3 linked regions of the Homo sapiens genome follow. The protein of the gene in region 2 purifies or fractionates together with the protein of the main gene of each other region. This does not show direct contact. Each region holds a gene or a part of one and is shown on either strand. Other genes may lie near its edges.

The links.
Region 1: the proteins of TP53INP1 (region 2) and KAT14 purify together in Homo sapiens (affinity purification with mass spectrometry; one large-scale study listed by BioGRID and IntAct). This does not show direct contact.
Region 3: the proteins of TP53INP1 (region 2) and YEATS2 purify together in Homo sapiens (affinity purification with mass spectrometry; one large-scale study listed by BioGRID and IntAct). This does not show direct contact.

What each region holds. Positions count from the first base shown.
Region 1 is NC_000020.11:18,185,699-18,188,535, reverse strand, and holds the end of KAT14 (cysteine-rich protein 2-binding protein), read right to left. Parts: intron 1,251-2,837; coding exon 1,077-1,250; 3' UTR 501-1,076; downstream 1-500. UniProt on the Homo sapiens protein: Component of the ATAC complex, a complex with histone acetyltransferase activity on histones H3 and H4. May function as a scaffold for the ATAC complex to promote ATAC complex stability. Has also weak histone acetyltransferase activity toward histone H4.
Region 2 is NC_000008.11:94,939,379-94,942,878, forward strand, and holds part of TP53INP1 (tumor protein p53-inducible nuclear protein 1), read right to left. Parts: intron 1,714-3,500; 5' UTR 1,564-1,713; coding exon 1,452-1,563; intron 843-1,451; coding exon 482-842; intron 1-481. UniProt on the Homo sapiens protein: Antiproliferative and proapoptotic protein involved in cell stress response which acts as a dual regulator of transcription and autophagy. Acts as a positive regulator of autophagy.
Region 3 is NC_000003.12:183,700,797-183,704,296, reverse strand, and holds part of YEATS2 (YEATS domain-containing protein 2), read right to left. Parts: intron 1-3,500. UniProt on the Homo sapiens protein: Chromatin reader component of the ATAC complex, a complex with histone acetyltransferase activity on histones H3 and H4. YEATS2 specifically recognizes and binds histone H3 crotonylated at 'Lys-27' (H3K27cr).

The sequences.
Region 1 (2,837 bases), on a different chromosome or scaffold from region 2:
GACAGATCCCTGATGCAAAATTTTAAATGTGCATGACAGTTTTCTAGAGAGTATTCAGCTTTCTTTGTATTCTCAAAGTGATCCATGTCCCAAAAAGTTAAGAACCACTGATCTTAATTAAAGAGGGTTTGAAAGCAAACTGACTAGATTGACGCTCTGGCCATGGGTTGTGCAAAGAAAGCTTTTTATTTGAGAACACCTAGATACTTTTGGAAATGTTCTTGTTGGATCACAAACAACCTAATTGACAGTCTATCGCCAACATCCACAAACACAGCAAACAGTCCAGTCCTGCAGACCACACAGGGTACATCTAGAGGGTTCTACTTGCATCACCCACACTTCCACTCCTGTGAAACAACTGTCTTGGGCATGAGAAGGGCCAGGATAGGCCAGGTGAATGGCAGGCTGCCCAACAACCCCAATCCCAAACCAACCTCCCAGGCCATGGGCCCAAGTCCCTGCAGGAAGATGCTAATAGGTACAACAGGTAGAACATGTAGACACAAACATCTAGTTTATTTTTTCTGACTGTAACCAAAGTCAGCAAAAGAAACAACAAAACTTCAGTGCCCTAGAAATCCTCCTGGATTCAATGACAACACATCAATGGCCGGGCACAGGGTTGGATTCCTTTTATGAAATCACCTTATAATCTCTCATCATCCCAGGACAGTGCCTTTTGGGACTGCATGAATCTTTAATAGCTACACCACATTTTCTCATCCTTTAAGTTATGACAGACAGGTTATCTCTCTCCAAGAGCATCAGGTTAGATGCTCTTTCACTCTTACAAACTGTCAGGTGGAGGGAGAATCACGACATCATTCATAAATAACTGTGGAGTCTGGGATGCTGGCTGAAGGCATCTCCAGGAAGGACTGGAGGGCGATTTTGCTAAAGGGCTGCTCACTGCTCATTTCACTGCATGCCGCTTTTCTCACTTTGGTTGGGAGTTTGAAGGACCATGTAATCACAGAGATTAGAGCTCCCTGTGAAATCAATCACTGCCTTTAGATCTCCACAAAGACCTGTTCTCCAATAGCACATGCGTTTCTCTGTGAGCTGTATTCGCATCAGCGCCGGAGCCTCAGAAAGAATGCGTGTTTACACTCTGTACTCTCCAATGGGTAATATTTATCATAGAAATCTAATACATATTCTTCAGTCTTGAATCCAAACTTCTGGTACAGTAGCATAGCGGGGTTGCTTGCTGAGACGTGAAGGGTTACGTCCTTGCCCATGCAGGTCTGCCAAAAGAGTGGAAAAATACAAGATAAAAATGGAAAGGCCTGAGGGAAAATGAGTAGGTAAAGAAACGCTTTTAAGTGTAGGCAGTTAGTTATGGAAACCGGAGAAATCAGAGACTGAGGCTGAGACATTGCAACACCTAGCAACAGCTGGAAACAGAATGACATTTTGCTGCTGATCAAAACATTCACAAGACCAAGGAAACTGATAGTATTCTGGGTGTTTTTTATTTTTCTTTGAAGCAAAGGGTCAATGGGGATATTGTTATTGTCAGCTTTATTATTTACAACTCAATTACCTTTAAATATGTCAAACATTTCAATACCTAACACTATGATAACCTTGAATAAATACAAAACAAAATAAGTTTTGCTTTTTAAAACTAGATGTTATCTTGTACCTCCCCAAAACCTGTAAAAATTCCTTTACTAGGCCTGCTAAATTACATGCACAAACATGAAATATTAAGAATGTAATTATAAAACCTGAGGCCCTTGTATAGACCTTCTGAATCCCAAAGTCCACCTTCTGTCTCTCTAAAACTGACAGAATTAGCTTCTTAGAACTGAGATTTCTACATTCAGCTTTGACCTAATCTTAGGGGAAAAGAGTAACAATCATTCTATCAACACAAGGCAAGTCCTTAGATTCTTTAATCAGCTACACAGAGTAAGGTGTCCCAAAAGTCATATCATTTAAGAACTTACTTTTTAATAAAGAAGGCACTGAAATACTGAAGTTGATAGAGTCCTTGAGATTTATAACCCATGGTTCTCTCAGGCCTCTAAGAACTCCTCTGTTGACAGTCATCTGATAGCTACCTGCTTTCTCTGCTTAACTTCCATGTGTATCCATAGGCATTTTTAGGACAAGAGAGCACTTACCAGTATGCCAGGGACAAGAGCACTTTGTGAGTTTTTAAAGCAAATTTTGTGGGGTCATATTGGTGTTTGCTAGATTGCAAATATACGTGATCTCACCGTGGCCATCATTGAGTGCCAGCGACTGTGCGCCACCTATGTTTGGGCCCTCAGGGGTATGGTCTGGCTGGAGGGGAAGGTGCCCACCTGCAAAGATGAACCACTCCTCCAGTGGCCTCGCAAACACTCAGCAGGGACTGACTCTGTACCAGCCCTCATGTTGGGCACCAAGGACACACACACACAAGGACAGAGTACTATTCGTGCCCTGTCTTCAGGCCCTTACCAGTGACAGATACGGCAGCAAATCCTCTAAGTGCTCTCCTAGGTTAAAAAGACGCATACTGAGAGATCAACTCTTGGTTGGGATGGGGCAGAGAAAGGGAGTGTTGTAGAAATAACTGAGAAGCTCTCAAGAGAAAACCACCACCCAAAGTAGCACATATTAATTACTCAGTGAGTGATTTACATAATCACTGCCTAAGGAGAGAAGGAAAGCAATTTCTAGGAAAATGGTTCCAAGGTTCCTGCCAACATTTGGGAATTATTAAGCAAGTTTCATTAAAAATTGGAGAAACAACTTTTATCATCTTCATCTCCTCTTTAAAAGGAATCTTGCCTGCATAAACATATAATCCTCCATACCAAATGGTTTCTAAGTAAAAG
Region 2 (3,500 bases):
CTTAAAAAAATCTAAAATGAACAAGTTTTTGTTTTTGAGACAGAGTCTTGCTCTGTCACCCAGGCTGATGTGCAGTGGCACAATCTTGACTCAATGCAACCTCTGCCTCCTGGTTCAAGCCATCCTCCCACCTCAGCCTCCTGAGTAGCTGGGACTACAGGTGTGCACCACCACACCTGGCTAATTTTTTGTTATTTTTTGTACAGACGGGGTTTCACCATGTTGCCCAGGGTGGTCTTGAACTCCTGAGCTTAAGTGATCTGCCTGCCTTGGCCTCCCAAAGTGCTGGGATTACAGGTGTGAGACACTGTGACTGGTCAACAAGTTATCTTACGGACCATCTTGTGTACTATGCACATGCTTTCATAAATCTCTAACAAAATTAGTTTTGCATCTTCTAATAACTTAGCTTTGAATTACAGTAGAGACAAAATGCATGCTCAGTGGACTGCCTACAGAGAGTTAAATACTTGTAACGTACCTGGGACTACTTGGGCTATGTAATTCATCAGTCCCACGGGTGGCCTCACTGAGACCAGGGCAGGAGTTATGCACAGCATAGACAGACATGCTGGGATGTTCAATGAGAAGGTTTTCCATAGGACTTGTTTCCACCTTGATAGTGGTTAATCCACCTGCAGTAAAACATGGGGGTGGGGTGATAAACCAGCTCTCCTCCATTGGACATGACTCAAACTGGAGAAAGCAGGAATCACTTGTATCAGCCAAGCACTCAAGAGATGCCGGTAAACAGGAAAAGACTGAAGGGTGCTCAGTAGGTGACTCTTCACTGATGTCCTCCTCTTCTTCTTCTTCTTCTGCTGAGAAACCAGTGCAAGTATCTAGATCGTAGTCCACATTGCAGTCCACATGTGTTGTTGAAGAGTCCCACAGGAGGATGATTATCACATTGGGCAGTCATTATAAAGTCACCCATCAAATTCACAGCACAGAAAAAGAAGAGATGATACTATTAGCTGATGCTCACGTATCTTCTTTTATTTAGTTCAGAAAACCATTTATATTCATCTATATGACTATAAATTTATTTCTGAGCACAGAAATTCTGTGTGTGTGTGTGTGTGTGTGTGTCACTATATGGGATAGATTTATGTTGGCTTTGCAGGAGTGATTTTAAGACTGTTTCTATTCTGCTGGATAACTATGTAATGAGACATATTGGTTACTACTTGTCTAATAAAAGGGGCTTCTAATGAAGTGCCCTTGATCTAATCAATCTGTGAGAGTTGCAAAACTAAAAAGTCTGATGTCAGTCAATTTCACTGACATTATCTAGCACAGATGGTTTCCTGCAATTTTTTAAAGACAAACTCCTGCTTACTTTTAAGGCTGAAAACCCCTCAGTTATTGGTTTCCTTATGCAAAAACTGAGATGCAAGTTTCCATTTTTACTGTGAAGATGAACCACCAAGTAACCAAGTGTACCTTACCTATGAAGTCAACAAGAATCCATTCATCATCTTCTTTCTCATTGAATTCTGGTTCTTGGTTGGAGGAAGAACTGACTTCACCCACAAACATTTTATTCAGCCTCTGGAACATTGTTAAGGCAAGACTGAGAGTTTGGCTGGATGTCTTTTATAGCTGAGATTTCAAAACCTTGTCTTTAGTTGGCCCAATGGTACCGACAGGAGATTAAAGTGCACAGGGTGCTTATTCAACTTAGGTGAAAAGCAAGAAGAGTCATTGTACCTAAAATAAAACAGAAAAAGGAAGTTATTTCAAATCAGCATGCACATATATACATAAGTACATACACATACACACATACCCTTAGAAGAAAGCATATGCCTTGGCCTACATTCTACAGCTATTCCCTTTCTGCAGGAGTCAAACACAAGAAATGCAACATAATGTTTTGTAAATACTCTTACTCAAATTCAACCTATAAATATCTTAAAATGTGAAATAAAAGGGAAAGAGTTGGTTCTTTTTCATATTTATGCTTTTATAATAAGGTGAATTTGAATAATATCCTTCAAACTTTTCTGCAAGCAGATGAGCAAATTCTAGATAGTAACAGTCTTGCTATATGTTATTCAACTGCTCAGAAGTCCCAGCAACAGTGCCTGGTGACCACCATTATGCCAGGCCCTCATCCTCCTCTGGCTCATTTTCTCTTCTACTCTGTACTTCTTGTCTATAACTGTAAGCACACCTGATTACACTTAAAATCTGTAAGCCCAGCAAGCATACTTTGACCTTCTAAACAATTCCTACAGCTGGCATGAAGAAATTTACACTGTAGGAAACTGAGCTTGGCCAAACCTAGAACTGGAAACACCCTTCCTGTGTAGCAGCTCAGCAGGTGGGTGCTGGGTCAGCCACCTGCATTCAAACCCTGGCTAGCTGCTCACTTGCTGTGTGAGTTAGGAAGTTATGTGACTTCAGCTGGCAACAGCTCCTACCTTAGGGAGTTCTGGTGAGTTCTAAATGAAGAACTCCAGGCTTGCTTGATCTTGGAATATTTATCCATTTCTACCTGGCTACCTGATGGGCGTATCAAACCAAACACATACCAAAGATAGGTTTTTTTCCCCCACAAACTTATTCATATACACTGCCCTTCATCCCTTTCTCAGGAAGCAGCAGCAGCTGGCAGTTATTCAGGCCAACACCCTAGCAGTCACCCTTCACGCTTTTTTTTTTTTGAGACGGAGTCTTTGTCTGTTGCCCAGGCTGGAGTGCATGCAGTGAGGCGATCTTGGCTCATTCCAAGCTCTGCCTCCCGGGTTCACGCCATTCTCCTGCCTCAGCCTCCCAAGTAGCTGGGACTACAGGCGCCCACCACCACATCCGGCTAATTTCTTTTTTTTTTATTTAGTGGAGACAGGGTTTCACCATGTTAGCCAGGATGGTCTCGATCTCCTGACCTCATGATCCGCCCACCTCAGCCTCCCAAAGTGCTAGGATTACAGGCGTGAGCTGCCGCACCCGCATGCCTTTTGCTCCCTCCTACTCACCCCTCATCCCAACCACCAAGTCCCGTCAACCCCAGGAGCACAGGCAGCTCGAATCTGCCTGCTTCCATCCACCACTCTCATCCTAGTTTAAGCCAAACTGTTGTCTCTGAGACTTTGCCAAAACTGTCTACTAGACAGTCTCCCTGATCCTACTCTTGTTAAAGGCAATGGACTTAGCAAAATACTTCGAATAAAGTCCTCAGTCCAGGTCAACTATTATTCTACATGTATTTACTGAGCACCTGTTATGCATCAGGTGCAGTGCTGGGCACAGGGGAGATGGCTGTGAACAGGGCCCTCCCACAAGTTTAACAATCCAGTGTGATGAATGCCATGGAAGAAGTATTTGGTGTTCTCCAGGCTACCTGGGTGGACTCCTGCAATGACTTTACTCTTGAGTGGCTGAGGTCAGTAATGGAGGAAGGGGGCAAAGGAACACTATGGAAGCCTGTGGATGAGTGAGAATGTGGCACCTTCAGTACCGCTCAAGGTCCAGAGGGAGGGTCACAATAGCAG
Region 3 (3,500 bases), on a different chromosome or scaffold from region 2:
AAGTTTTATTGCCAGCAACAGAAAAAGAAACAAGCAGAACGAACAAAGGCTAAATCCTAAAACCAAAGTGGGGAGATCTAGAACGAAGGGGATTTGTACTACACAAGTCTACTGTTGAAGCTTTAGGAAGCTTTTTTTTTTTTTTTGAGATGGAGTCTCACTCTGTTGCCCAAGCTGGATTGCAGTGGCGCAATATCGGCTCACTGCAACCTCTGCCTCCCAGGTTGGAGTGATTCTCCTGCCTCAGCCTCCTAAGTAGCTGGGACTGCAGGCACCCACCACCACATCTGGCTATTTTTTATTTTATTTTATTTTATTTTTTTAGTAGAGGGAGGGTTGAACTCCTGACCTCAGGTGATCCGCCTGCCTCAGCCTCCCAAAGTGCTGGGATTACAAGCGTGAGCCACTACGCCTGGCCCCTTTAGGAACATTTTAATGAAACTGACTTTCAGTAATCCAAATACATATGATCCATTTCCTGAATTCTATTTTGAAAACTAAATACGGCAGCAGCTTCACCCCAACACCATCCACTCTTCCCAAAGACTGTTCAATGTACACTCTAAGAATATATATCCATTTTAATATTATACTGAGAAAATCATTAGGCATGCAGAAGCCCTATCAAAAAAATCAAAATCTATATTTCAATGTCAATTAAAATTTCTCCACCTATTTAAACATTACTCTTAACACTGTCACCTCCCTTTGATACAAAGAACTGAAAAAACAAAATACACCTGATCGTCTTTCCAAAGTTATGCTCATTTTGTAACAGAAGGAACGAGAAGTTATCTATTAGGTTGGTGCAAAAGTAAAAACCACAACTACTTTTGCACCAACCTCTATTAAAGGACAGACTCAGACCAAGGGAACTCTAGGAGACAGAAGATTCTGTTATGATTTTCACCAGAGTTAGTACCGACAAAAAAATGCTATGCTAATTATTCTAAGTCAGGTCTGACACACAAAACCTTTTGAATATGTTCCCATTTGCTGGCTAACATATCACTTTTTCTTTAACTCATCTGGCATCCAAAACAAAAACAGATCTTTTAAGTAAAAATAATCAAAATTTTATACTGGACCTGAATGGCGAGAAGCTGAGCGATCTGGTCATTAGGACTGACGTGATGTGGGACATTTCTAATAACATGTAAAGAGCTGAGCAAAAGACAGCTGAGCTCAAAAACACTGTCTCATTATTTCAGTCTTATATATTTCCAGGTCAAAAACACCAACTTTCCTATAAATAAAACGGCTTTAAGACTACACAATTTGCTAATATGGTCAGCCCCCAGAATCCATTCTGGCCAGTACGCTGTCTACAACCTTGCAAACTAGCACACAGAAGACTGTAGGATAAAACAGCTCCTCTAAATTATCCATGCCACTGCTTCTCTCCATTAATGCACCTGGAAAGCTGACTTTAGGTAACTTTTACCATTCCCTTTTTTTTTTTTGAGAGAGAGAGTCTTGCTGTCGCCCAGGATGGAGTGCAGTGGCGCAATCTTGGCTCACTGCAACCTCCGCCTCCCGGGTTCAAGAAATTCTCCTGTCTCAGCCTCCGAGTAGCTGTGACTACAGGCGCACACCACCACGTCTAATTTTTTTGTATTTTTAGTAGAGACGGGGTTTCACCATATTGGTCAGTCTGGTCTCGAACTCCTGACCTCAGGTGATCCACCCGCCTCAGCCTCCCAAAGTGCTGAGATTATAGGCGTGAGCTACAGCACCCGGCCACTTTTACCATTCCTTTACCCCACCGGTTCAACTTTCTTTTTCTGGAAGAATGAGGCATGTGGGATGTTTAAGGGGTTTGAGATTTTTAAGGTAATTTTTTTAATTTTTTGAGACAGTGTCTCACTATGTCGCCCAGGCTGGAGTGCAATGGCACGATCTTGGCTCACTGCAACCTCTGCCTCCCGTGTTCAAGTGATTCTCCAGCCACAGCCTCCCAAGTAGCTGGGGTTACAGGCACGCACCACCACACCCGGCTCATTTTTGTATTTTTAGTAGAGACAGGGTTTCTCCATGTTGGCCAGGCTGGTCTCGAACGCTTGACCTCAAATGATCCACCCGCCTTGGCCTCCCAAAGTGCTGGGACTACAGGTATGAGCCACCGCGGCTGGCCTGATGCAGATTGTTTCCATATCATCTGTTCTGTAGTAGTTAGGGGGAAAAAAAGCTTTCGAAGGCTGGAGTTCACTTCATGGATGAGTCGGAATTTGATTCTTGAAGGATGAAGAGCATTTCGGTAAGCGGAGAAGGTAGAGGTGAAATATGAGCCCATTGGAAAGTAACTGTGAGATGTTCAGGCATGTGAACTTTGATGACTGCAGACATGGAGAAGTAGAACTAGTTCTAGGCAAGGGCTGTTTATCCTGCTTGTCTGAGGAGTGAGCTGTGGGGAACCTGTTAAGTGGTTGTAATGAAAGCTGAGGGTGAGGAGAATGCAGTGGGGAGGGGCTTGAACTTTACCTGCAGTGCTTCTACTGGCGATTGTTATGTATTTTGTTTTTAAGTTTTAATTTATTTGAGAGTGTGGATATACTTTTTTAATTGAAATATAATTCACTTAACTTAAAAGGTACTGTTTTAGGCCAGGCACAGTGGCTCATGTGCCTGTAATCCCAGCACTTTGGGAGGCCAAAGCAGGAGGATTGCTTGAACCCAGGAGTTTAAGACCGGCCTGGACAACATAGGGAGACCTTGTCTCTACTGAAAAAGAAAAAGAAAAAAATTAGCTGGGCATGGTGGTGTGTACCTGTAGTCCCACCTACTTGGTAGGCTGAGGTGGGAGGCTCGCTTGAGCCCAGGAGTTCAAGGCTGCAATGACCTACGGCTGCATCACTGCACTCCAGCCTGGGCGACAGAGACAGACCCTGTCTCAAAAAATATATATATTGACCGGCCGGGCGCGGTGGCTCAAGCCTGTAATCCCAGCACTGGGAGGCCAAGGCAGGCAGATCACGACGTCAGGAGATCGAGATCATCCTGGCTAACATGGTGAAACCCCGTCTCTAATAAAAATACAAAGCAAAAAAACTTAGCCAGGCGAGGTGGTGGGTGCCTGTAGTCCCACCTACCCAGGAGGCTGAGGCAGGAAAAGGCGTGAACCCGGGAGGCAGAGCTTGCAGAGAGCTGAGATTGCGCCACTGCACTCCAGCCTGGGCGACAGAGCGAGACTCCTTCTCAAAAAAAAAAAAAATTTATATATATATACACACACACACACACACACATATATATATACACACACCAGTTAAAAGAGTGCAATTCAGTGGATTTCAGTATATTCACAAAGTTGCACAAAAATCACCACTATCTAATTCCATAATGTTTTCATCACTCCAAAAAGCAACCACTTACCTCTTAATTGTCACTCTCAATTCTCCTCTCCCTTCATCCCCCTGGCAACTACTTTTTGTGTGGATAAACTTGCCTGTTTCTGGACATTTCGTATAAATAGAATCATACAGCACGTGGCTTTTTGTATC